2 linked regions of the Homo sapiens genome follow. The protein of the gene in region 2 interacts with the protein of the main gene of each other region in a pairwise test. Each region holds a gene or a part of one and is shown on either strand. Other genes may lie near its edges.

What was found.
Region 1: the proteins of ZRSR2 (region 2) and SPATS2L interact in a two-hybrid assay, tested with the Homo sapiens proteins (one large-scale study listed by BioGRID).

What each region holds. Positions count from the first base shown.
Region 1 is NC_000002.12:200,479,906-200,482,769, reverse strand, and holds the end of SPATS2L (SPATS2-like protein), read right to left. Parts: 3' UTR 506-2,864; downstream 1-505.
Region 2 is NC_000023.11:15,817,688-15,821,515, reverse strand, and holds part of ZRSR2 (U2 small nuclear ribonucleoprotein auxiliary factor 35 kDa subunit-related protein 2), read right to left. Parts: intron 2,930-3,828; coding exon 2,874-2,929; intron 1,310-2,873; coding exon 1,200-1,309; intron 1-1,199. UniProt on the Homo sapiens protein: Pre-mRNA-binding protein required for splicing of both U2- and U12-type introns. Selectively interacts with the 3'-splice site of U2- and U12-type pre-mRNAs and promotes different steps in U2 and U12 intron splicing.

The sequences.
Region 1 (2,864 bases), on a different chromosome or scaffold from region 2:
ACAAAAAAAAAAAAAAGAAAAAAAAAAGGATACTTTTTTTTTTTTTTGACAGGGAGCACTTTTTACACTGCTATTTTCTGTAGAAGTTCTTTGGCCATTGTCACAGTCATGCTTCTGAACCATTTTTTTTTTTTTTTTTTTTTTTTTGCCAGAAGTCTACATAATTTCTCAGACAAATTTGCTTTGGAATATACTCATTATTCTGCAAAAGTTGTTTGTGGCAATTCTTCCTATGAAACTGGAACTTAGTGGCAGCCCCAGAAGCTCCTCTGAGCTGTGGGAAAAAACAGAGTTCTCAGACAAAGGGACTTCTGATAATTAATCATTAATGTGTAAGAACCTTGAATGATGAGAGCAGCATTGTGTATTTCTCAGATAGACTAGATTCAGACCAGAGTGCCTTTGCCTGCAGGGCTGCTATAATGAGATTAAACACTGGCTTGGCCAGCTGAGCAGCCTCCCAGGACTGGGGACCTGGTTCTTTGAAACTAAGAATAAACACAAAACTTTGTTAGAATTTATTAAAGAAGCAAAAAGATTTTAAAATCCTTATAATGGATTGTAAAGAATAGTATTTAAATTACATTTCAAATTCTTAGCTAAGTAACAAGAGAATCACTGGGACTTTGCAACTCTTCATAATTTTCTCACAAAATCAGAGCAATTGAGATGGCTCAGTACTTTCAAGGAAATGCTGGAACAATGTATTAGGCGAACTGCTTTTTTTCCTTTTTTTTTGGTCTTTTGCTATTTTATAGTTTGCTTAAGAAACTTAAGAACAAGTGACTGGGGCCGGGCGCAGTGGCTCACCCCTGTAATCCCAGCACTTTGGGAGGCCGAGGGGGGTGGATCACGAGGTCAGGAGATCAAAACCATCCTGGCTAACACGGTGAAACCCTGTATCTACTAAAAATACAAAAAATTAGCCAGGTGTGGTGGCGGGTGCCTGTAGTCCCAGCTACTCGGGAGGCTGAGGCAGGAGAATGGCGTGAACCCGGGAGGCGGAGCTTGCAGTGAGCCGAGACCGCGCCACTGCACTCCAGCCTGGGCGACAGAGCGAGACTCCATCTCAAAAAACGCGTACAGCAAAAAAGGGTGCCGTTACATAGGTCATTGGATGCTATCACTGGAATGTCTGTTGAGAAATAAACGTTTTACCATCTGTAGACACATGAGGGCGCTTTAAGCAGGCAGCGTGGGATGCAGCGTGCAAAGGGAGGGAGGGAGGAAGAAAGCTTTGTCAAAGGTAGCCTGAAATTCAGGCATCTCCCTATCTGGTTGCGGACCTGTGCCTGCGTCGGGGTGGGGAGCACCGAATCGATTTAGGAAAAGAACTGCGCAGGCCCTTGATCCCCACTTCTCATGGTGAAATCAAGTTTGAGGTTCAAATCAAGGCTTTCAGAGAGTCAGAATTTCCAAATCTGTTACTTTGTCAAAAAACTGCTTTTAATCTGGTAACGTTTCCCATTAACCTCATTTGATGTCCTTCCCTAAGAATGTTTAATTAGAATCTCCTTTTCTGATGCCAGCAGAATTGAACTGCTTGTGAACTGAGCTTTAAATTGGACATGTTGTGTTTCTAGTCCTCCACTGAGGGTGAATTTTGCAGCAATTTGCGTTTAACTTTCTGTGTCTTGCTGCATTAAGCACTTCTAGAATAGGATCAACAGGACAGAGCTGGAGTATGCAGAGATTCTCAAAAGAAATGTAAATTTGGAATGTAATTGGGAACCCAACAGGGAGGTGTGGATTTCACGGATGAAGTCTTGGTGGAAGATCTAAGTGCCACAATGTGAGTTTGAAGTTATTCCATCTTCATAAGGATTAAACTATTTTAACCTCTACTAGGCAAATGTTTAAGAGAATAATCTGACTACTGTGCATTAAGTAGAGAGATTAGAGTTTAAAACACTTTAAATGAATGGCAGAATAGGACTCAGTTCTCTAGGATCACACCAATAGTTCCACCAGACAGATGAAGATATGTAATACAGTGTTTAAGCGGCCTGACATTGGCACTAAAATATTGAAATTACTGTTTCAAAAATGCAAACTAATAAATGCTTACATGCCCAGGGTCTATAAGAAAGGCAAAAACCAGCCAGGCGAGGTGGCTCATGCCTGTAATTCTAACACTTTGGGAGGCCAAAGCAGGAAGATCACTTGAGCTCCGGAGTTCGAGACCAGTCTGGGCACCATAGTGAGACCTCGTTTCTACTAAAAATTTAAAAAGTAGCTGGGACGTTGTGGTGCACACCTGTAGTCCTCGCAACTTGGGAGGCTGAGGATGGCTTGAGCCCAGGAGTTCAAGGCTATAGTGAGCCATGATCATGCACTCCAGCCTAGGTGATAGAGCAAGACCCTGTCTCAAAAACATGCACTCCAGCCTAGGTGATAGAGCAAGACCCTGTCTCAAAAAAAAAAAAAAAAAGGAAAAAATATTGGAAAAAATGTGATCAGGTCTGAGCACTTTTTAGCATTCTTTTGTTTCTTTTCAGTGACATGGGAGTGTTTGCTCTGTGCTCAGGAATGTGTTTGGGCTTTCTTAACCCTAAGGGAGTGAGTCGAGGTCAAGAGTGGTTGGGTTCAACTCTGACAAAGGCAGGTGAACTCCTGACCTGGCAAATTCATTTTTTTCCCTGTTCCAAGAATTACTTGACTCATCTTTAAAGCGGTCACATTTACACTGACATTTTTCAGTGGTGAGCAAAATCTTGCTACATAAAAAACTGTGCAAAATCCTTCCGTCTTGTAATATATGAATTCAGGGCCTCAGATGGGGTAAACAGGGCCTACAGTGCCGAACATTTATCTTTCTTATTTGAACGAACAACTCTTCCTTCCTTCCTGGAATGTGACTTAAC
Region 2 (3,828 bases):
TACTTGTATGGAGAATATACCAAGAACTCTTACAACTCAATAATAAAAAGACAAAGAGCCTAGTTAGAAAATAGGCAAAGGATCCAAACAGACATCTCTCCAAAGAAGACATACAAATGGCCAATAATGAAAAGATGCTCAGTGTCTTTAGTCAATAAGGAAAATAAAGTGTTTTTTTTTTTTTAATGAAATAGTCCCCTGCTTTGGAGGAGTCAAGGTCACACTCAGAAGCTCCTCACTGAACTCACACTGGATTCCCAGGAACTGACAAAAGTAACTGCCTTTATGGAGCGAACAATTCCACCTCTTCCATCCCCCGAGCCTTTAAAGTGTAATGGTTCTTCTGGTTTCCCTTAGCCAGGAATCCTAAAATCTTTCTTTTCCCTTCATAAATGGTTTCAGAATGACAGAATCCAAGGAAGACAAGCTTGCCAAAGATTCTGACTTTGCGTTAGGCAGGCATGTATACAGCAAAGAAACACAAGTAAACGGTAAGATAAGTGCTCCCCAGAGGCATTTAGAGCTCATCTCTTTTCACCTAGGGAACAGTCCACTGAGAGAAATCAGAACATAACTAGGCCTTCAAAACTGCTGGCTATTCTGCACAAGACTGGATCATTTCCTGATTGGGTTGCCACTGTCCGATGTCAGTCTGACTGCATTCATGTTTAACTGATCCCAAGCCTACAATTAGTCTCTAGTGCACAGAAGGATGTATTATTCCAAGTAAGGCAGGAAATGCTATGGGCAAGGTAACGTAGGTGGTCATGACAGAAGATTCATTAGGGATAAAGATGGAAAGAAAGAAACAAACAAACAGCTCAAGTGAAGTGAGCCAATGAATATAAAATACCTCTGAAACTGCAACAAGGGAAATGGGGCTTCCACAGACGTAAACTCCTCAGGCTTCCTGATTTGTCAGACACAGAGCCCAGGACTGAAGATTGGAAGACTGGAATTCTAGCCCCACCTCTGTCACCAATACGTTGTGACCTCAGTCACTTCATCTATCAAGTGACTCATTGAGGTCGGTTACAGATCTAAACTGTGGTGTTCTTTATATAAAGTTCTCTGCTCATCTACTGTGTGAGGCAAAAAGCTATGCCTCACCACTTGAAAATACTGGGTTTCCCCCAAAGAATATCCCTTTATATAGCAGTGGAACAATTGAGGAAAAAAATCATCACTTTGTCTTTTACCACAAATCGCCATTTTCCACCGGGTCACGGGGCAGAATTCACACTGCAGCTGTCGTCCTGCATACCATCGTCCGTTAAACAGAGAAAGGGCTGCTTGGCATTCTTCTTCCCTTTAAACCAAAAATCAAATGATATGCTTTACAGTAACTTCCTAATATGTAGATTAGCTCTACTATTAATTAACCCCGTTATTAATTTATTGTAGGACCACCAAGTTCACTGATTTTGTACCTAGGGAAGAGTCATTAAAATGGTCAAGCTCCCAAAGCTCCCAATTTATTCAGGAACCCTTTTTACTAACCCTCGGAGAGGTTTCAATGCATGGAAATTGGCTTGAATGAAACCGTCTTAATCCAAAAGATTGGACCATTAAAAATGCAGAAGTGTTTTCCATTATTAGGGCCTATTCTTTCTCAGATAGGATTGCTGTTCTTCTTATTACACTGGTTAATTTAACCCATTAGCCATGGTATGGCCTAGGCAAACAGCAAGATAAGAAGAAATGATACATTAATTGCTCTCTTAGCTGGTCAAATGCACACTAAGATGATTTTGGGCTTCAATCTCCGGCTCTTTCACTATAAATGCTTTTATGTTCTCTATTCTAGTTATCCCTTATTAGTTTGTATTTTAATTATTAAAATTATGAGTAATAATATAACCATATTGTAAAACATTCAAAACTATGTAAATATATAAAGAATGAAATATAAATTTATTATTTTTTTCTTTTTGAGATGGAGTCTTACTCTCACTCTGTCCCCCAGGCTAGAGTGTCGTGGTACAGTCATACCTCACTGCAGCCTCGACCTCCTGGGCTCAAGTGATCCTCCTGCCTCAGCCTCACAAATAGCTGGGACTACCAGCACATGCCACCACATTCGGCCAATTTTTAAATTTTTTTGTAGAGATGAGGTCTCTCTTGAAGCGATTCTCCTGTCTCAGCCTCCCAAGTAGCTGGGATTACAGGTGCCTGCCACCACGCCTGGCTAATTTTTTGTATTTTTAGTAGAGATGGGGTTTTGCCATGTTGACCAGGCTGGTCTTGAACTCCTGGCCTCAAGCAATCCTCCCACTTCAGCCTCCAAAAGTGTTGGGATGACAGGTGTGAGCCACCATGCCCGGCTTATATTATTTTCACATCCATTCTATATTTCTGTTTCAACTCTTAATATTTAAGTTTTAAATATTTAGATTTATTTAAACTTTAATTTTATTTAAATATTTTAAAATATATGAAAGCTGGGCCAAACACAGTGGCTCACGCCTGTAATCCCAGTACTTTGGGAGGCCGAGGTGGGTGGATCACCTGAGGTCAGGAGTTCGAGACCAGCCTGGTCATCATAGTAAAACCCCATCTCTACTAAAAATACAAAAAATTAGCTGGGCATGGTGGCAGGCACCTGTAATCCCAGCTACTCAGGAGGCTGAGGCAGGACAATCACTTGAACCTGGGAGGTGGAGGTGGCAGTGAGCTGAGAACACGCCATTGCACTCTAGCCTGGGCAACAAGAGCGAAACTCCGTCTCAAAAGAAAAAAACAAAATAAAAATAAAAACATAAGAAATAAAATACATGAAAGTTATATATCCAGTGGAAAAATCCCAGACATCAACAGAAACAGAACAACAAACTGTGACAAATCAGGAAGACATCCACAAGCAGAATACTTACGACTGGTACTGAACATATACATTGCCCCTCAGGTGAGGTTCCAAATTGCAGCTGACCTAGGGAGCAATGAAGAATGCTATCATAAAAAATTCAGGAAAAGAAACCAGCCATTCATCAAATGTTGTTTGTCCAGGCTAACATTCCCCAAAGTAGTTACCAATCAAAGATTGCAAAATAGAGATACTAGCTGACTCTTGCATCTATTTAAGGCGTACTTGGCACATGGCAGCGTGCCTGATCCCTGTTGGTCCAGGTCTGTTTTCTCCCACAAATATGAAATGTTTCACACATCCATAAAAATACAGAAGATATCAATCAGCCTATATATGCACTACCCAGATTTAACACTAACGTTTTCCACTTCTGAATGAGAATATTTACATATGTAAAACATTAAAGACTCAGTTGAAGCCCTTCTATCCCATTCTTCTCCCTCCTCCATCACATAGGTGAACACTCTCCACAGGCTAGGAGTGTAGCCTTCACATTCCAAACACAAACACACATATACATACATAGACCTACACAGACACAAATACAAATACACAGATACAGGCATATATACATACATCATATGCATGCCAAAACCCACACATATGTATCATACATATAAATGTCCATTATTTATAATGGGTATACACATATATATACATATGCAAAGAAACAGGTAATACGTATTGATAAACAACATATAGTGTTGCTTTGTATGTTTTAAAATTTTATATCAATAGTATTTATTCCATATTCTTTTTTCAAGATGTAGTCACATAAACTTAACTACTGTATACTGGATATACCAAATAATAAAACTTATCTACTCTAGAATGATGGTTTTTCAAGATGCTTCCAATTTTTCATCCACAAACAGTACCGCAGTCAGCATTCTTAAACAGGTCTCTGTGGGTATAAAGAGCTCTCTACTGTGCATAGCCAGGAGTGTGCCAATTTATAGGTT